Homo sapiens: one gene and its partners. The protein of the gene in region 1 interacts with the protein of each later gene in a biochemical or structural test. Each region holds a gene or a part of one and is shown in the gene's direction. Other genes may lie near its edges. The genes, in order: SUPT6H, TCEA1 and IWS1.

Evidence for each region.
Region 2: the proteins of SUPT6H (region 1) and TCEA1 form a complex in vitro, tested with the Homo sapiens proteins (one study listed by BioGRID).
Region 3: the proteins of SUPT6H (region 1) and IWS1 form a complex in vitro, tested with the Homo sapiens proteins (one study listed by BioGRID).

Annotation. Positions count from the first base shown.
Region 1 is NC_000017.11:28,686,189-28,693,300, forward strand, and holds part of SUPT6H (transcription elongation factor SPT6), read left to right. Parts: intron 1-150; coding exon 151-227; intron 228-465; coding exon 466-601; intron 602-899; coding exon 900-1,037; intron 1,038-1,115; coding exon 1,116-1,283; intron 1,284-1,902; coding exon 1,903-2,030; intron 2,031-2,500; coding exon of another isoform or gene 2,501-2,546; exon of another isoform or gene 2,547-2,651; intron 2,652-3,165; coding exon 3,166-3,373; intron 3,374-3,893; coding exon 3,894-4,041; intron 4,042-4,732; coding exon 4,733-4,875; intron 4,876-7,112.
Region 2 is NC_000008.11:54,012,438-54,019,549, reverse strand, and holds part of TCEA1 (transcription elongation factor A protein 1), read left to right. Parts: intron 1-7,112.
Region 3 is NC_000002.12:127,502,414-127,509,525, reverse strand, and holds part of IWS1 (protein IWS1 homolog), read left to right. Parts: intron 1-3,773; coding exon 3,774-4,842; intron 4,843-5,949; coding exon 5,950-6,139; intron 6,140-6,653; coding exon 6,654-6,711; intron 6,712-7,112.

The DNA of each region.
Region 1 (7,112 bases):
AAGAGGTGGGAATAGTTCCTTGGTAGCACCTTGGACCAGATATCTTCTGAAGACTTCCAGTTCTTACAAGATCTCCAACATAGGGAGACAGAATTTCCTGAAATCTTTACATCCTCAGAGCCATTCAGCTTCAATTTTCTTTCAATCCAGGCTCAAGACATTGAAACGCTAAAGAAATTTCTCCTGAATAAGAAGCCTCATGTAGTGACAGTTGCAGGAGAGAACAGGTAGGTAGGGATTAGACCACACCTGGTTTAAGGCCGTGACCCAACTCATCCCTTATTATTGAGTCTGGCATATGCCCATAACAGATGGGGCTTGTGCTTGTGCAGGGAGTGTCCCTGGGGATGTTTGACCTCATTTTCTTCAAAGCCCTTTCCTCCCCTACCTCTTCACCCCCAAGGCAGTCATGAGACTGTCCATCCCTAAGAAAACATATTCATTGACCAACACTCATCCCACCAGGGACGCCCAGATGTTGATTGAAGATGTGAAGCGCATTGTACATGAGCTGGACCAGGGCCAGCAGCTGTCATCTATTGGGGTAGAGCTGGTTGACAACGAGTTGGCCATTCTCTATATGAACAGCAAGAAGTCAGAGGTAATGCTGGAGCCTCACCCTTAGGGCCTGCCCAGGCAAGTGCTATTAATCCCAAAGAGATTAAATTGGGAAACAAAAGTTATCAGGGGCACAGGACTGTACCTGTGTACTTATCCATGCAGAAGTTCTCCGTTTTGCAGTTACGGTTCAGATTGGGAGTCCCAGAAATTAAATCGGTCTCAGGAAAAAAGATCCCAGAGAAGCAGAGAAAATGATTTAAACCAGAATGGTTTGGATTTCCTCTTGATGTTGTAGCTAAGGGGATTTTAAGGCCCTGCTGACCCTCGTTTGACTCTAGGCAGAGTTCCGGGATTATCCTCCAGTGCTGAGACAGGCCGTCTCCCTGGCCCGGCGCATCCAGGACCCTCTGATTGAATTTGCCCAGGTGTGCAGTTCCGATGAAGACATCCTGTGTCTCAAGTTTCACCCCTTGCAGGTGAGTAGGATTTGACAGGCAGGCTCGGGTGAAGGGAAAGGCAGAGTAACCTTACTCCTGCCTGCTGAATGTCCACAGGAGCATGTGGTGAAAGAGGAGCTGCTCAACGCCTTGTACTGTGAATTTATCAACCGAGTCAATGAGGTCGGGGTCGATGTCAACCGTGCCATTGCCCACCCTTACAGCCAGGCCTTGATCCAGTATGTTTGTGGCCTGGGACCTCGGAAAGGGACCCACCTCCTGAAGGTAGGATTGGAGTGAATTCAGAAATTTTAAAACTTGCCATTTCATTGAATATGAATATATACTTTGTCAGTATAATTTGACAGATTGGGAGGACCAAGGTCAGTGACTTGTCCAAAATCACTCAGCTAGTGAGAGTCAAAAGAGTCTGACTTCAGACCCAGTTGGCCAAAGCTGTGCCCTTCACTGCTGCTTGCACCACCACACCCAGCTAATTTTTTGTATTTTTAGTAGAGACGGGGTTTCACCATGTTGGCCAGACTGGTCTCAAACTCCTGACCCCAGGTGATCCACCCGCCTCAGCCTCCCAAAGTGCTGGGATTACAGGCATGAGCCACTGCGCCCGGCCAACTAGTGTTAACTTGTAACTTATAAGCCATACATTAGTTGTATATGGTCTTTGGTGTAGGTATAACATCATTTATTTGTTTATTATTTTCCCATTTAAAGCAAAACTTTTTTTTTTTTTTTTTTAATTTTGAGTGGTCGATAGCATGCTGTAGTGCTCAACTAGATACTGGGTGGGACAGAGTTTTTGTTATGAGGGTTTAATAGAGACTGGAACAGTCTGGGGAGGTGGGGCCTGCTTACTGCCCTGGCTCAGTCCAGCTCTCTCCCCCAGATCCTGAAGCAGAACAACACCCGGCTCGAGAGCCGGACCCAGCTGGTCACCATGTGCCACATGGGTCCCAAAGTCTTCATGAATTGTGCTGGCTTCCTCAAGATCGACACGGCCTCCCTGGGGGACAGGTGATGCCCTCTGCCTGGATGGGGCAGGAGGAATTCCCTTGTGGGCTTTGTTTTCGGGTTTCAGGGGTTAGGGCTATCAAAGGGCCACAAGCCATTTTAACTTAGGAAATGTTTTAAAGAAAAGGTAAGGAACTTTATTCAGTCAAGAGCCCCTGACCTATGGAAAAGATCGGTTCAATCATGTGAAACATTTTTCGTGTGAGAGAAACATAAAAAGTACCAGCTTAGCTTATAAATTAAGCATGGAAAACACAAGATTTTGTTCAGTAAACACAAACTTGCTTTTTTATTATTATGGTTTGTTGTGGCCAGATAAGGGTGGGAATAGCGGGGGCAATGAAAAAGGAGTTTGGGGGTATAAAGAGATAAGGAAGGGGGAGAGAGATTTGGTATGTTTTGAGATGATGTTATTAAGAGAAAGTTCTATTCACTTGGACTTTGGACTTCACTATTGACCTCTTCCTCTCCAGAAGTTATCAACTCAGTCTTTGGAGGATCTTTTCCACGGGCACATAGCTCCTCATTCAGTAATGGAAATCAGTGGGGAAATAGGCTTCAAGTTCTAAAACTTCATTTTCCACTCAGCTTTGCTGTAACACTCCACGAATAACATAGGTCCATGTGAGTGCACGGGCAAGACCAGCCTGGGAAGGCTTTATGGGGGAAAATAGCTATCAGCAAATTTTCAAAGGTTTTTTTCCCCTTTCTTGATTTATCTTATTATGAGACTCATATAAGTTCATCATATAAAATTCAACATATAGAAATATTATGCAGAAAGTGGAAGTCCCCCATAATCCCACCCCCCAGAGATAACTACCATAACAATTTTATGTATACTACAGTTTTTCTAAATTTTATTTTTGCTATGCATTTACTAACTACCCATTTACTACAAAAATGGGATCATATGGTTCATAGTGTTTTTGCAGTGCATTTTTCACGTATCAATATATTGTGGCCATCTTTCCATGTCAGCACACATAGATCTACCTCATTCTTGTTAATGGCTGTATAGTATTCCATTGTATGGAGGTGCCCTAATTTATTTAACCAGTTCCCCATTGGTGGACATTTGGGTTGTTACTAGAAGCTTATCGTTCTATATCCTGTTCCTTTTCTGCCTTTCCTCCAGCACTGACTCATATATTGAAGTCCTTGATGGTTCCCGTGTCCACCCTGAGACTTATGAGTGGGCTAGGAAGATGGCAGTGGATGCCCTGGAATACGATGAATCAGCCGAGGATGCCAATCCTGCAGGAGCCCTTGAAGAAATCTTGGAAAACCCAGAGCGACTGAAAGACCTGGACCTTGATGCCTTTGCAGAAGAGCTGGAGAGGCAGGTAAGGGACAGCATGGAAGGCCCGGCAGGAGAACCCATCCCAAGTGGCCAGGTTGGTAGGAGACTTGGGCAGTGAGTGTGCAGAGAAAGCCTGATACTGTTAGTATGGCAGACTTGATCCTCATCTCCCTGCCCTGCTCTACTGGGCTCCTCAAGGAAGTTTTTGGTCTGCTTGTTAAGGAGCCAGGGAAGTCTCAGAGATTGCCACCATAATTACAAGGGGCAGGAGGGAGTTGGGAGGATGTCAGTACTACAGTTTCCGTCTAGGCCCCCTTTCCTCCTTTCTAACAGCACAGCTTTGCATTTATCTGTGGACTCATTGGGGTTCCATAAAGCATTTTGATTACAGTGTTTCATGGCTAAGTTTGAAAACCACCTTTAGTAAATGTTGATGGAAAGAAAAGAAGAAGCCCTGACAGAAACTTACTCCCATCTGGAGAGGCCCGCCCCTTCCACGGGACTCCTTGAGGCTCAGGTTGGGGGGCAGCTGCAAGGCTCTTCTTGATGGGCTTCTTCCCCAGGGCTATGGTGACAAACACATCACACTCTATGACATCCGGGCAGAGCTGAGCTGTCGATATAAGGACCTCCGGACAGCCTACCGCTCTCCCAACACAGAGGAGATCTTCAATATGTTAACCAAAGAAACACCAGAGACCTTCTACATTGGTAAATTCTGGGGTCATTTTTTTATTGGGGGCAGGAGGTGTGTTTACTGTGTACATTCAAACCAAGCAGCAGTTCCAACAGATTGAGGCAGGTTTGTGTTGTACATGGGGAAGGCCAGGAGAGCATTTTAAAAGACTAAAGAGTCCTGGACTGGAAATCAAAACTGAATTTAAGGTCAAATGTGCTTCCAGTGTGCTATGGAATCTTCATGCAGTTAGTCTTCTTATAGGCTTTATTTTCCCCTATCATCAAATCAGGGGAACGGCCAGGCACAGTGGCTCATGCCTGTAATCCCAGCACTTTGGGAGGCCAGGGCAGGCAGACTGCTTGAGGCCAGGAGTTCGAGACCAGTCTGGGCAACATGGTGAAACCCCATCTCCACTAAAAATAAAAAATTAGCTGAGCGTGGTGGTGGGCACCTGTAATCCCAGCTACTCGGGAGGCTGAGGCAGGAGGATTCCTTGAACCTGGGAGGCAGAGGTTACAGTCAGCCAAGATAGCACCACTGCACTGCAGCCTGGGCAACAGAGCAAGACTTCATCTCAAAAATAAATAAATAAATAAAAATCGGGAAGAGTTCCCTCTTCAAGGATGGGAAGGAAGTCAGATATTCTGTCACTGAAAGGCTGGTGGAAAGAAGTGCTCTCCACATTCTCTGAGCCTGCTCCCCATCCTCTTTTCCTTCTTGCAGGAAAGCTCATCATCTGCAATGTCACTGGCATTGCCCACAGGCGTCCCCAGGGTGAGAGCTATGACCAGGCGATCCGCAATGATGAGACAGGGCTGTGGCAGTGCCCCTTCTGTCAGCAGGACAATTTCCCTGAACTAAGCGAGGTGTGTGCTGCAGCATTATCCTGCTCAGTGGATTTCCTTGGTTGAATGATCTCGGTGCCTAGAAGGGAATCAGAAATGAGGGTGTTCTAGATCATTCTCTCACCAAACAAGTACACAAAGAAGGAAGACGGACGGGAAACACACAGGTTTAGCATGAAGTCCCTTCTGAGAAGGCTGACATAGCTGGGCACGGTGGCTCACGCCTATAATCCTAGCACTTTGGGGGCCAAGGTGGGCGGTTCATCTGAGATCAGGGGTTCGAGACCAGCCTGGCCAAGATGGTGAACCCCCGTCTCTACTAAAAATACAAAAATTAGCCAGTTGTGGTGGCATACGCCTGTAATCCTAGCTACTCGAGAGGCTGAGGCAGGAGAATGACTTGAACCGAGGAGGCGGAGTTTGCAGTGAGCCGAGATCATACCACTGCACTGCAGCCTGGGTGACAGAATGAGACTTCATCTCAGAAAAGGAAAAAAAAAGGCTGACTTAGAAACTTCTTATGGTCGGCCGGGCGCAGTAGCTCACGCCTGTAATCCCAGCACTTTGGGAGGCCGAGGCGGGCGGATCATGAGGTCAGGAGATCGAGACCATCCTGGCTAACACGGTGAAACCCCGTCTCTACTAAAAATACAAAAAATTAGCCAGGCACGGTGGCGGCCACCTGTAGTCCCAGCCACTCAGGAGGCTGAGACAGGAGAATGGCGTGAACCCAGGAGATGGAGCTTGCAGTGAGCCAAGATAGCAGCATTGCACTCCAGCCTGGGCGAAAGAGCGAGACTCCGTCTCAAAAAAAAAAAAAAAGAAACTTCTTATGGTCGCTGGGTCAAAACAAAATGGCAGACAGGCATGGTGGCACGTACGTATAGTGCCAGCTACATCAGAGGCTAATTTGGGAGGATTTCTTGAGCCCAGGAGTTCGAGGCCAGCCTGGGCAACATAGCAAGACCCCATCTCCTTTTTTAAAAAAAGGGAGGGGCTGGCCGGGCGCGGTGGCTCACTCCTGTAATCCCAGCACTTTGGGAGGCTGAGGCGGGCGGATCATGAGGTCAGGAGATCGAGACCATCCTGGCTAACACGGTGAAACCCTGTCTCTACTAAACAATACAAAAAATTAGCCAGGCATGGTGGTGGGCGCCTGTAGTCCCAGCTACTCGGGAGGCTGAGGCAGGAGAATGGTGTGAACCCGGGAGGCGGAGCCTGCAGTGAGCCGAGATTGCACCACTGTACTCCAGCCTGGGCGACAGCGAGACTCTGTCTCAAAAAAAAAAAAAAAGTGGGGAGGGGCCAGGCCGGGCACAGTGGCTCATGCCTGTAATCCCAGTACTTTGGGAGGCTGAGGCAGTTGGATCACCTGAGGTCAGGAGTTCCAGACCAGCCTGACCAACATGATGAAACCCCATCTCTACTAAAAATATAAGGATTAGCAGGGTGTGGTGGTGAGACTCCTATCTCAAAAAAAAACACAAAAGGGAGGGGCCTCAGTTGCAGCTAAAGGGATCTAAGTTGGATAAACATAAAAGAGGATGGGGCACAGTCACACCAGTAATCCCAGCACTTTCAGGGGCCGAGGCAGGTGGAGTGCTTGCCCAGGAGTTCAAGACCAACCTGAGCAACATGGCAAAACCCTATCTCTACAAAATAAAATTAGCCAGGCTTAACCGGGTGCAGTGGCTCACGCCTATAATCCCAGCACTTTGGGAGGCCAAGGTAGGTGGATCACGAGGTCAGGAGATCGAGGCCATCCTGGCTAACACAGTGAAACCCCATCTCTACTAAAAATACAAAAAATTAGCTGGGCATGGTGGCGGGCGCTTGTAGTCCCAGCTACTCGGGAGGCAGAGGCAGGAGAATGGCGTGAACCCGGGAGGCAGAGCTTGCAGTGAGCCAAGATTGTGCCACTGCACTCCAGCCTGGGCAACAGAGCAAGACTCTGTCTCAAAAAAAAAAAAAAAAAAGATTACCCAGACTTGGGGGCGTGCGCTTATAGTCCCAGCTACTCGAGAGGCCAAGGTGGAAGGATCACTCGAGCCTGGGAGGTTGAGGCTGCAGTGAACCCTGATTGCACCACTACACTTCAGCCTAGGCAAAAGAGTGATACTGTCATAAGAAAAAGATGGCTAGGTGTGGTGGCTCACGCCTGTAATCCCAGCACTTTGGGAGGCCGAGGTGGGCAGAACACCTGAGGTCAGGAGTTTGAGACCAGCCTGGCCAACATGATGAAACCCCATCTCTACTAA
Region 2 (7,112 bases), on another chromosome or scaffold:
TACCCAGGCTAGAGTGCAGTGGTGCAATCTCGGCTCACTGCAACCTCCGCCTCCCCAGTTCAAGCGATTCTCTTGCCTCAGCCTCCCTAGAAGCTGGGACTACAGGTGTGCACCACCATGCCTGGCTAATTTTCGTATTTTTAGTAGAGATGGGATTTCAACGTATTGGCCAGGCTGGTCTTGAACTCCTGATCTCAGGTGATCTGCCCGTCCTGGCCTCCCAGAGTGCTGGGATTACAGATGTGAGCCACTGCGCCCAGCCTGAAAAAGTTAACTTTGAAGAGTAATAGTTGTCATCAGAATTGACAAATTTAAGTGCAAATTTAGATATCATTTAAAAAAATATTTTAACATGCTGCTGCTTTACCTGAATAATTTTGTTTTACTAAAACCATAGGTGTCACACTTAACTAAAAACAGCTTACCATTTATTGAGCTATTACTCTGAGCCAGGTATTCTGCTAAATACTTACCCACCTTATCCCATTTATTCCTCAGGCAACTTTGCAAGATGAGTATTATCCTCATTCTGAAAATGAGGATGCTAAGTATTTAGAATAGTCTTAAGCCAAATAGCTAGTGAATGGCCAAGTGAAGATGTGAATCTAAATCTGTTTTGCTCCAAAGCTAGTACTCCTCTCTTAAGCTACAGTGTCTCTCTAGAAGACCCTTGCATCTGCTCTTGAACCATGCATGGATACAATTAAGTGAATACAAAATCAGGAAGTAAGAGTATGAACTTGCTGTTTTGGGGCAGGTGTGTTTCCCTAGTTACCTAGATCAATATCCTGACCCTAGTTCTACCCAAGATGTTGTCCCACATGTGTACTTGATCTCAAGTGCACATGACCAAGCCACAGTGAACCACAGAAAGTAGTTCGAAATTTTTAGGTATTAGCTGTTTTCTGCTTAAGCTGTTTTCTTGTCACTTTGATTCGGTGTCAGTAACCAAGTCTGACTGCTAATGTGGGTTCAAATCCTGGCTTTTCTGAACTTTTCTGAACTTTAGCTGTGTGATTTTAGGCAAGTTCTTTGTCATCACTAAAATGTTTCTCGTCATGGTAAACTGGAGATAATTTAGTAAGGATTAAGTGAATATAAAATGCTTCTAGTGTAGGATTGTGGGCCTAAAGGATGTAATAAGGCCTAAAAAACAATCTGAGGTTGCCTTTCTTTGTAAAGGATTCATTTAGATTATAGAAGGAGGAGTGAGGCAAGGACATAAAGTTTTGAAGTTCATGGAGAGATTTTGTGGGTAGTGCTGAGGTTTATTTATTTATTTCATTGAAGGCTCAAGGTTGAGTGGAATTAAATTGCAGGGAGAGAAATTGAAATTAGATGTTAGAATTTCGTAGGAGCTGGGATACCTGAAATATTGATTTACATTTCCAAGTACCTCAGTTAAAATAACAACTGCAACAAAACTTTGATATCTATATCAGAGTTAGATTAATTAGCATAATTCAAAATTTAGAATGACTATACAATTTTTAATAACAGCTTTATCGAGAAATAGAATTAAATTCATTCTTAAAGTGTAGTTGACTCTTGAACAATGCAAGGGTTGTGGTGCTCACACTATCCCCCCTCCCTACCCGCATGCAGTCAAGTAGTATAACTTTTGTAGTAGTATAACTCATGCAGTCATGTCACTCAGGCTGGAGTGTGGTGGCATGATCTTGGCTCACTGCAACCTCCGCCTCCTGGGTTTAAGCAGCTCTCCCACCTCAGCTTCCCGAGTAGCTGGGACTACAAGTGCGTGCCACCACACCCAACTAATTTTGTATTTTTAGTAGAGATGGGATTTTACCATTTTTCTCAGGCTGGTCTCCACATCCTGACCTCAAGTGATTCACCTGCCTCGGCCTCCCAAATTGCTGGGATTACAGGCGTGAGCCACTGAGCCCAGCCTTTTTTGGGTATTTTTTATAGAGATGGGGTTTCACCATATTGCCCAGGCTGATCTAGAACTCCTGAACTCAAGTGATCTGCCTGCCTTGGCCTCCCAAAATGTTGGGATTATAGGCACTTAGCCTGGGTGACAGAGCGAGACAATGTCTCAAAAAAGAAAAGAAAAGAAATAAAGGAGAGAAAATATGTTTACTGTTCATGAAGTGGAAATGTGTCGTCGTAAAGGTCTTCATCCTCTTTGTCTTCACATTGAATAAGCTGAGGAGAAAGGAAGAGTTGGTTTTGTCATCTAGGGTTGCAGAGGTGAAAGAAAATTCTCAGGTGAATCTGTGCAGTTTAAACCCATGTTATTTGAGGGTCAACTGTTAATTCAGTGGCTTTTAGTGTATTTACGGGTTTGTGCAACTATTACTACTGTATAATTTTAGAACATTTTCATCACTCCAAAAAGAAACCCTGTACCTATTAAGCAGTCACTCCTCATTCAGCCCTCATTTGCCCCCACCAATTTCTCACACGCCTCTGACAGCCACTAATATACTTTCTGTCTGTGTGTTTGCCAAATCTGGAAATTTTCTGTCAGTGAAATTATACAGTATGTGGTCTTTTGTAACTGGCCTCTTTTGCTTAGTATAGTCTTTTTTTTTTTTTTTTTTTTTTGAGACGGAGTCTCATCTTGCTCTGTCGCTCAGGCTGGAGTGCAGTGGCGCGATCTCGGCTCACTGCAACCTCCGCCTCCCAGGTTCAAGCAGTTCTCCTGTCTCAGCCTCCCGAGTAGCTGGGACTATAGGCGCGCACCACCACACCCGGCTAATTTTTGTATTTTTAGTAGAGATGGGGTTTCACCATATTGGCCAGGCCGGTCTCAAACTCCTGACCTCATAATCCGCCTGTCTTGGCCTCCCAAAGTGCTGGGATTTCCACGCGTGAGCCACACCGCCTGGCCTGATTTTTGTATTTTTAGTAGAGACAGGGTTTCACCATGTCGGCCAAGCTGGTCTAGAACTCCTGATCTCAGGTGATCTACCCGCTTCAGCCTCCCAAAGTGCTGGGATTACAGATGTGAGCCACTGCACCCAACCACGATTTGCTTATTCATTCATCATTTGGTGGACATTTGGGCTGTTTCAGCTTTTTGGCTGTTGTGAATAATACTGTTAAAAACATTGCTGTACAAGTGTCTCGCTCTGTCACCCCGGCTGGAGTGCAGTGGTGTGATGGCTCACTGTAAGCTCCGCCTCCCGGGTTCCCACCATTCTCCTGCCTCAGCCTCCCGAGTAGCTGGGGCTACAGGCACCCAGCACCATGCCCGGCTATTGTATTTTTAGTAGAGACTGGGTTTCACTGTATTAGCCAGGATGGTCTCGATCTCCTGACTTCATGATCTGCCCGCCTCGGCCTCCTAAAGTGCCGGGATTACAGGCGTGAGCCACCGCGCCTGGCGACATATGTTTTCATTTCTGTTGGGTGTATACCTCGGAGAATAATTACTGGGTCATATAGTAACTATGTTTAACCTTTTGAGGAACTGCCAGACCTTTCCAGTGTGGCTGCACCATTTTACATTCCAACTAGCAGTGTGTGAGGATTCCAGTTTCACCTCATTTTCACCAATATCATTTGTCTTGATTATAGCCTTCCTAGTGGGTGTAAAGTGGTATTTCATTGTGGGTTTGATTTGCATGTCCCTTGTGATTAACAATGTTGAGCATCTTTTCATTGCTTTGTGGCCATTTGCATATCTTCTATGGAGAAATAAATGTCTATTCAGATCCTTTGCCCATTTTTTAGAAAAGAGTCAGGGTCTGGCTATGTTGCCCAGGCTGGAGTACAAATTGGATTAGTCCATTTTTAAATTGGGTTGTCTTTTTATTATTGAGTTGTAAGAGTTCTTTATATTCTGAATACTAGAACCTTGTTAGATATGCTGATACTGTCTCCCATTCTGTGGGTTGTCTGTCTGCTCTTGGTTGTGGCCTTTGAAGTATAAAATATTCTAATTTTGATGAAGATGAATTTATATATATTTTTCTTTTGTTGCTTGTGCTTTTGGTGTAGTTTAACTGCAAATTTGAGATGACATAGTAATATCATAAGTCCTAGCTTTATAGTGATGTTATTGAGCTACAACTCAAATATCTATAATTCATTGTTTAAGAAAATAGATAATGGGCCAGGCATGGTGGGTCACACCTGTAATCCCAGCACTTTGGGAGGCTGAGGTGGGCAGATCACGAGGTCAGGAGTTCAAGACCAGCCTGGCTAACATAGTGAAACCCCATCTCTACTGAAAATACAAAAATTAGTTGGGCGTGGTGGTGGGCGCCTGTAGTCCCAGCTGCTTGGGAGGCTGAGGCAGGATAATCGCTTGAACCCAGGAGGTAGAGGTTGCAGCGAACTGAGATCACGCCACTGCACTCCAGCCTGGGCGACACAGTGAGACTGTCTCAAAAAAAAAAAAATGGATAATATCTTAATTCTTTAACCTTGAAATCTTATAATAATGCCTATGAAGAAGACATTATTATAGAAGAAGTAACTGTTTTACTTGATTGAGCTTAAATATGATCACTGAAAATGCTGGCTTATGGCCCCTGGAGATTATTGTTATGGTAGAAATAAGTAATTATTTGTATATTTTTGTACTCCTCATCAACCATGCTATGTGTCAGACCCTCTATTTTGATACTTTATCTGTGTAATGTTGCCTCATTTGGCTGTTTTAACTACTCAAGGTTGGTGTGTTATGCTCACCTACGTATAAAGAAGCTGAAGCTTGAAAAGGACAAATAACATTACCCAGATCTTGTAGTTAGCAAATGTCAGAGCATGGATTTGAATCTAAATCTGTCATATATGTACACCATATTCTTAACTATAAATCCCTATTACTCCCTCCTTTTTACATCTCCTTGAGGAGAGGGATGTTCGTATCCTACATGGTCTTGAGTATACTGAGCACATAGTACAAGTATCATGGTTTATAAAATCACTTGTTTTCTATTACCAGATAGGAGCACCAACAATGTAATAAAATAGTGTGATAGCTGTAGTTTATCTTTCAGCCAGTAGTGTGAACTAAATTTGGCTCTGGAAATTAAAGAAGAGTCTTTCTTTCTCTTGCATCATCTGTAGGAGATGCTACAATCTCATAGACTTGGACATGTATTCTTTTCTTTTCTTTTTTTTTAAATAGAGGTGGGATCTCATTCTGTTATCCAGGCTGGTCTCGAACCCCTGGGCTCAAGTGATCCTCCTGCCTTAGGCCTCCCAGAGTGCTGGGATTACAGGCTGAGCCATTGTGCCTGGCCTAGGCTTGACATTTAGAGCTAGGTGATGCTTGGGGAAGGCTAAAATACAGCTTCTTGTTTGGTGATACTAGTCATCTGAATTCACAAAGGAGTGCTGCCACTGGCGCACTGCTGGGGAAAGGGCAGCAGTATAAGGGTCAGGCGACTAGTTCATGACCTTACTACCCGTCAGTATGACCTTGGGCAAGTCACTTTTCTTTTCTGGGTTTAAGTTTCTTTTTTTTGTGTGTAGTTAAGGGTTTGAAATAGATGATTAAAGATTTCTGTTTGTTTTAAAATTCCCTGATGTCAGAAAGGGTTTCAGTCTTGCTCACTGCTGTATCCCCAGTACAGTAGAGCTTGGTACATTTGACATTACTGGAGTAGATCTTACCTTTTCTAGTTAGTAATCATAGAACCTTGTGCAAGTTTCTTGACATATTTCCTCATCTGTAAAATGGAGATAATACCTGCTTCTATAGGGTTTATGGTGAAGGTGGAATTAAATCTATGTGAAGTATTTAACAATGCCAAGCACATAGCAGCACTCAAAGTTTGTTGTCACCGAATTAATGTATGATTATCTGTTTTGCATTTCACTCATTCAGATCATCATAGTTATTTCTTTTTGTTTGTCTGTTTTTTGTTTTTTTTTTTTTTTTTTTTTTGAGATGGAGTTTTGCTCTATCGTCCAGGTTGGAGTGCAGTGGCACGATCTCGGCTCACTGCAACCTCCGCCTCCTGGGTTCAAGTGATTCTCCTGCCTCAGCCTCCTGAGTAGCTGTGGGATTACAGGTGCCCGCCACCACGCCCCGCTAATTTTTGTATTTTTAGTAGAGATGGAGTTTCACCATGTTGGCCAGGCTGGTCTCGAACTCCTGAGCTCAGGTTGATCCTCCCACCTCGGTCTCCCAAAGTGCTAGGATTACAGGTGTGAGCCACATGCATAAGCCACCGTGCCCAGCCCATAGTTATTTCTTAAAGACCCTTCAGTGAAATATTTATTTGAATTAGTTGGAACACAGTGCAGTTTTCAGAAAGGTCATAGTTTTATTCCGTGAGTGTTACTTTTAGCTTTTTATTCCAACCATGGCCTCACCAGAGAGCTGAGTAGAAAAGGAAAGTAACAAAATTAATGCAAATATATTGCCTCTACTTGGAAAACAATTTAAACTGTATGTCTCATTGCTGATATGTTGGAAGAATCAACTTAATACTTAGGAAACCCTGCTTTTTAAGGAACTTCTAGAAGTGTGATTCTTTACCCTTATTAAGAGATTCTTGGTCAGAAGTGGATCAGAAATCCTGGAAATGTGGATAGAAGAAAAATGTCAATGGTAAATGGAGAATACAGGCCCACAATCTTTTTTTTTTTTTTTTTTTTTTGTCGTCGTCGTTTTTTAATTTTTATTTTAGAAATGGAGTCTCACTCTGTCCACACAGGCTAGACTGCCGTGGCACGATCATGGTTCATGTAATCTCAAGCTTCTGGGCTCGAGCAGTCCTCCCGCCTCAGCTTCTGGAGTAGCTAGGACTACAGGCACTATGGCCAGCTAATTTTTTATCTTTATTTTTTGTAGAGAGGGGGTCATGCTGTGTTGTCCAGACTTCTAGAGTTTGTTAATCAAAACCCTTAGGGTCTGATATATTTGGTAATTCCAGATTTTTCAGATTTGATAAAGATAATTTGGTATATACATCATATATTACATAATACCCCCAGCAGGATTTGGGCACTTCAGCAACCAGACATTAACATTTCTTTTTTTTGTTTTGTTTTTTGTTTTTTTGAGACGGAGTCTCGCTCTGTCGCCCAGGCTGGAGTGCAGTGGCGCGATCTCGGCTCACTGCAACCTCCACTTCCTGGGTTCAAGCAGCTCTCTGCCTCAGTCTCCTGAGTAGCTGGGATTA
Region 3 (7,112 bases), on another chromosome or scaffold:
CATGTTAGGCAGGATGGTCTCAATCTCCTGACCTCGTGATCTGCCCACCTCGGCCTCCCAAAGTGCTGGGATTACAGGCGTGAGCCACTGCGCCCGGCGGCATTATAGATGTTTCTAAAGCATCTAAGGACCTTCTGAGTGCTCAATTTCTTTTACCATTACAACTAGGAAATGTGTTACATTATTTTAGAAATGACATTAAATGTCAGTTTCAACTGTTGGTTTGTTGTACTCATCTGACTTTTAAAAAACTGTCTTTTGGATTTTTTTTAAGCTTGCAATTTAATTGCCAAAACCACTCTAAAAACTTTGGATATTGTTTTGATAACTTTTAAGCTTAACTGTATAATTTCCAGCATACTCGTCCCAAATTCTGTGGTGGTGTTGTCTAAGTGTATTCTTTAGCTCGAGTCTATTAAACTAGTACTTCTTTACTGTAGTGATTTCTCCCCTTTTTTGCCCTGTCATGCCATACATAATGCTATGTTTTCGTGAAACTCATAAAAAATTCATGAGGATTCCTAAATTTTACAATCATTGTCTTATGCAGTGTCCTTGTAAGGGTTTGTTTTGGAATGCTACACCATGTGTCAGGAAATCTGGGGTAGAGTGTAGCGGGTGAGTTTTGGATGACTGCCCAGTGTCTCTCACTTCTTTGGGAGTGACTCCCAGTGCTGTGCCCCGATCCAGCTGTAACTGATTGAGTCACAGTTTCTAATATTGCCTTGGCCAGTTAAGTCATCTCTCTTGGGGATTTATAATTTAGGTTCTAGACAGGGTATAGCTGAGTCATGTTACTGATGGTACTCTAGTAAAATGATCCTTGAGTTCCCTTTTCTAAGCTCTCTGTGCTGCGTTGGTACTTAACCTTCCCAAGTGTTTAGTCATTCAACTGACTTTGATCCTGAGAAGATTGTTCTTTTTTTCTGGACTTAGCTAGAGATGATTTCTGTAGTTTCAACTAAAATAAATCAAGTCACACATAGAAATGGTGTTAGAGTTATGTGATGGATATATCATGGAGAGCATTCCAAAAGCCAATTATAATTTTCCTTTTTGCCTCCTGCTTTAATTGCCTCTGCTGGTACTGTATGCCTCTCCCCACCCTCCCGTCTTAACTCAGCCATCACAAACTGCATGCAAACATGCCTGTTGTCTGCACACCTTTTTTTTGCAGCTCAGTTTCATATAGATGCACTTCCAGTACACTTTTGAAATATCATATACATACTTTGTGAATAGTGCATGTCACACTATACTGTTACAGTATGCTTGGCTGGCTCCTCATCAGACAGCAGCTCTTAAGGTCAGGCCCTGTGACATACTCCGCCTGGATTCTTGGTGTCTTGCACGTAGTAGACATGAAATACATTCTTGTTGGATTAATTTTTCCTCACCTTATGTTATTCCCACTTAAGGCCTTTATTACTCATTTAACAAATACACGTTGAGTATCCCTTATCCAAAATGCTTCAAATCAGAAGTGTTTTGGATTTAGAATTTTTTCGAGTTTTGGAATATTTACTTATACAGAGTGAGCTATTTTGGCGATGGAACCCAAGTCTAAACACGAAATTCATGTGTCTTATATACATAGCTGGAAGGTAATTTTACACATTATTTTAAATAATTTTTCACATGAAACAAAGTTTGTGTTGGGTGCTTATGTGTGGAATTTTCCACTTGTGGTGTCATGTCAGTGCTCAAGAAGTTTCAGATTTTGGAGTTGTCTGAATTTTCAGATTAGGAATGCTCGAACTCTACCTAGTGTGTGTATGTTCTGGAGACCATTCTGCACTCTGAGGATACCTCAGGAAAACAAACCAAAATATGTCTGCCTTCCTAGAGCTTACAATCTAGATAGTTAAATTTTCCATCTGCATTCTTTTAAATTATGAAGTGTGGCTAAAGTAAACTTTAGGCAACATACAGACTATTGTACGGTAATTGTAAGATTCTATGATATCTCTCAAGTCCTAATACCGTTTTAATAGATAAGTGCCTGTTTCAGTGGGATAATAGAGCTTGTGACTGACAAGGAATCTAATACAGTACTGTGTTGAGTGCCCAGTGAGAACTCAAGAAAAATGTATTTAGGAATTTTGAAAAGTGTATGATTTTGGAAACTTACCTGAATGTGCTATATTTCAGTGACTGTGTATAGCAATGACTCTTTGCAATGCTGTGCTGTCATAATGGTGATAAAATATTTAAAAACTCTTCAAACATTGGCTTTGTAGGCTATTTTATAATTTTTCATATTCTTTTTGAATTTGTAGACACAGCATACTTGGGTTAGTAAAAGTTTGGGTTTTATGAGAACATTTTCAAGCCATTTATCTTGTCATTGACAAGAATAATCTTGTCACTTAACTGTTTCATAGCATGATGTTGGGCATATATATTATTAAAGGCTCTTTGGTCCTTGAAAATTGGTCTGTGGTAGGTTCACATAGCTTAAGTCATATATCTAACAAGAAATATTTGGCTCAGTAAATTTTTAAGAGGGTATACTCAAACACGGAAATACTTTCACTTTTTAAGCTAGAATATTATTGCCATGTTATTTAAAGTTGAGCTACCAGATGGGAGAAAAAATTCACCGGATCCTAAAATACTTGTTAGTATTTTGGCATGTTTAATTTTGTATATTTTTCTCTGCATTTTAAAGCCATAGCTATAATATGCACATATCAAGTTTGTACCCCAGGGCATGTTTTCAGAGTAATTATTTCAAGTAACATTATGTGTTGGTATAGTTAGATGAATCATGTTCTCCCTAAAACTTAAGCTTTCTTGTTTCTAGGGTTACTAGACACAGGACCGTGACTACTGTAAGCCTCAATTTTGTTATCATGAGAAGTACCATTATGAGGAGTAAATGAACTAACAGGAGAGAGCCTGTTGTGGTATTGGCTCTTAGTGGGTACTTAGGAAATGTTAACTTCTCCTTTCTTTGTTTGCTTAAATTATCTTGGGAGAAGGTGCCCATATGTTATTTGACCCTTTAAATAAAATTAAATTTTATAGTTCTTTTCCCTTAAATAATCTTAACCTTATAAAACCCAAGAATGTTCCTGTGTAAAAGAACTTGGTTACATGTTTGCTTGTATTTCTTTGAAAAATAGAGTTATTTATTTTTATTTATTTATTTTTATTTTTGACAGTCTCACTCTGTCACCCAGGCTGGAGTGCGATGGTGCAATCTCAGCTCACTGCAACCTCCGCCTCCCAGGTTCAAGTGATTCTCCTGCCTCAGCCTCCCTAGTAGCTGGGATTACAGGTGTCCACCACCACGCCCAGCTAATTTTTGTATTTTTAATAGAGACAGGGTTTCACCATGTTGGCCGGGCTGGTCTCGAACTCCTGACCTCAGGTGATCCACCACCTCGGCCTCCCAAAAGGTGTGAGCCACCTTGTCCAGCCTAGAGTTATATTTTTACAAAACAGAAGTATGTATGAGAAAATTCGCCTTTTAAAAAAGAAAAAATCTAGCTCTTCACGGTCAGTTTTCTGTAGTAATCTGAGGGCATGCTTTACAAATCTGTTTTGATGAAGGCTGGTTATATTTCCCCATTTGGGGATCCAAATAAAACCATTTCACTGATTGGCTTTCTGTGGGGGTGTTTCTATATGGGTATAGGACAAGAATTCTCCATTTAGGTGCACATAATCCTGTATTTTAAAAAAATCACAGAAAAAATTTAATGTTTTATTATTAATGGTTTTTTTTTTTTTGCACTTTCCTAATTTTTTCTCACTTTATTTTTCAGAATGAAACTAGTGATCGAGAAGATGGCCTCCCCAAAGGACATCATGTGACAGACTCTGAGAACGATGAGCCCTTAAATCTTAATGCTAGTGACTCTGAAAGTGAGGAGCTTCACAGGCAAAAGGACAGCGACTCTGAATCTGAGGAACGTGCAGAGCCTCCTGCAAGCGATTCTGAAAATGAGGATGTCAATCAGCATGGGAGCGACTCTGAGAGTGAAGAGACCAGGAAATTACCTGGTAGTGACTCTGAAAATGAGGAACTTCTTAATGGGCATGCAAGTGACTCAGAAAACGAAGATGTTGGGAAGCATCCCGCCAGTGATTCTGAGATTGAGGAGCTCCAGAAGAGTCCTGCTAGTGACTCTGAAACAGAAGATGCTCTAAAACCTCAAATCAGTGACTCTGAGAGTGAGGAACCCCCAAGGCACCAAGCCAGTGACTCCGAAAATGAGGAGCCTCCCAAACCTCGAATGAGTGATTCTGAAAGTGAGGAGCTTCCTAAACCTCAGGTCAGTGATTCAGAAAGTGAGGAACCCCCAAGGCACCAGGCCAGTGACTCTGAAAATGAGGAGCTTCCCAAACCTCGTATCAGTGACTCAGAAAGTGAGGACCCTCCGAGGCACCAGGCCAGTGACTCAGAAAATGAAGAGCTTCCCAAACCCCGAATCAGTGATTCGGAAAGTGAGGATCCCCCAAGGAACCAGGCCAGTGATTCGGAAAATGAGGAGCTACCCAAACCCCGAGTCAGTGACTCTGAGAGTGAGGGGCCTCAGAAGGGGCCTGCCAGTGACTCAGAAACTGAGGATGCGTCCAGACACAAACAGAAGCCAGAGTCAGATGATGACAGCGACAGGGAGAATAAGGGAGAGGATACAGAAATGCAGAATGACTCCTTCCATTCAGACAGCCATATGGACAGAAAAAAGTTTCACAGTTCTGATAGTGAGGAGGAAGAACACAAAAAGCAAAAAATGGACAGTGATGAAGATGAAAAAGAGGGTGAGGAGGAGAAAGTAGCGAAGAGAAAAGCTGCTGTGCTTTCTGATAGTGAAGATGAAGAGAAAGCATGTAAGGAGTTACCTTGGGCTGTTTATCAATGGCTTTATTCATTGTCTAAGCTTGTAACTGTGGAACATTGTATCCTCTTGGTATGTCAGATCTGTGTTCTGTTATTCAGCTTAATATTCTAAAATATCAGTAGGACACTCATTTCCCCTGGTTATCATTAGCTAAGCTTAATAGTAAGTTTCCTTGGAGTTCTATTAGCACATATTAATCTCTGACTGCCTCAAAGTGATAAACCACATGTCAATAGGAATATAAAATACTGTTTTTTTTTTTTAAAACTGGAAGAGGTAATGTTTCAAAGAAATACGTTTACATAAAAACCCCTAACTGTATTAATTGTTAGCTGTGGGTCTCTTTGACACTTAGTTCACTAGATCCCATCCAAACAGTAACAGCTCCCACAGGTACATCTCTTCATTTGTTAAACATTGTTGAATATTCAGATACAGGGAAGCTTTGAGAGGATTCTATTTAGAGACACCATCTCTCTCCAGAGTGTTTCAGTCTCTGCTATCTAAGACTCCATTTGCACAGATAGTATTACTTGTCTACTTTTTTATGAAACTTATCTTTTTTGGAAAAGACATATTTCATTATAACCTCACAGTTCTTATAGGAGAAGGAAAAGGTACCAGACATGCTGTCAATTTGTTAAGGGAGATGAGAAATTTCAAACTGACCAGCAATGATAGAGGAACATGGAGACTATTCCTAGAAAGAAATATGTAGTCCTTTTTAGTTCAGTTACTACTAGGCAACATAGAAAGGATGCCAGTTTTGCCCATCAATCTAGTTTTAATTTTCTCGATTTCCCAAAAGGAAAGGTGGCTGCTTTTATATTGATGATATCTTTCTTCATCTTTTGGCCAGTTTTTCTTAAGCAAAATAACAGATAATTTGTAAGATGACTCTGAATGAGCCATTTAGTTATTTTAAAAATTCTAAACCATGTGTCAGGAGGCCCTCTGATTTTATTTTATTTATTTATTTATTTATTTATTTATTTATTTATTTTTGCTGTATACTGCCATCTTAAAGCACCTGTTATGCTTAGTAATACAATGGCTGTGATAAAATAAAATTAATGATGATTTTCTTTTTCAACAGCAGCAAAGAAGAGTCGTGTTGTCTCTGATGCAGATGACTCTGACAGTGATGCTGTATCAGACAAGTCAGGCAAAAGAGAGAAGACCATAGCATCTGACAGTGAGGAAGAAGCTGGGAAAGAATTGTCTGATAAGAAAAATGAAGAGAAGGATCTGTTTGGGAGTGACAGTGAGTCAGGCAATGAAGAAGAGTAAGTGACAGTATAACATGAGTTTTCAGGGGTTCTTAATTAGGCAGTAGAGAGGGGTCTGTGTTATAATACAATATGTCCTGCCTAATTGCATGTCTTTGGGGATTTAGTATTTTAGTTCCTGAACTGAACACACTACAATGTGGGTGAATCTCAGAATTCATCTCAGAATTAACATGTTAAGTGAAAGAAAGCAAAGAGGACATATATGATTCCATTTACATGAAGTTCAGTAGGCAAAATTTATCTGTGGTGTTGGAAGTCAAGGTGGCAGTTGTTTCTAGGATGTTGATATTGGGGACCAGCTAGAAGGGGCCATGAGAGGACTTTCTGGGGAGGCTACATGAGTGTATAGGGTGCTGGTTACATGAGTGTATATATTTGTTAAAACTCATTGAACTGAACACTGAAGATCTGCACATTTTACTGTACATAAATTCTATTTTTTAAAAAATGGTTCCTATGCAAATGAGGATAAAGCAAATGAATGTTTTTACATTTGTCTACTTTCTAGAAATCTTATTGCAGACATATTTGGAGAATCTGGTGATGAAGAGGAAGAAGAATTTACAGTAAGTATAAGATGGAAATATTTCCTCCTTGATTGTGCTTTTTTTTGGTGTTTTTATGGCAGTGATACCATTATAGATGATTCTAATAAGTAGGAATAAACAATTATGATGTATTCAAGATAAAAATCTAGAAGAGGGATTCAGGAAGTAAAATGAAAGCGTATATACAAAGACATAAAAGGAAGCTAATGGGCAAAATTGAATTAAGGGGGAAGGGACACTTTGAGACAAAGAAAGTCACTTTATAATGCTAAAGGGCAAGATTCACAATAATTAGGGAACTTCCGATTTTCACAGTGGCATTCTAGGTGATTTGGACTAACCCCTCTGCCAAGCACAACTAGAAAAGCTAGACAAAAATATATAGAAATCTGCTCATTATCTAGGAACAAAGTAGCAAA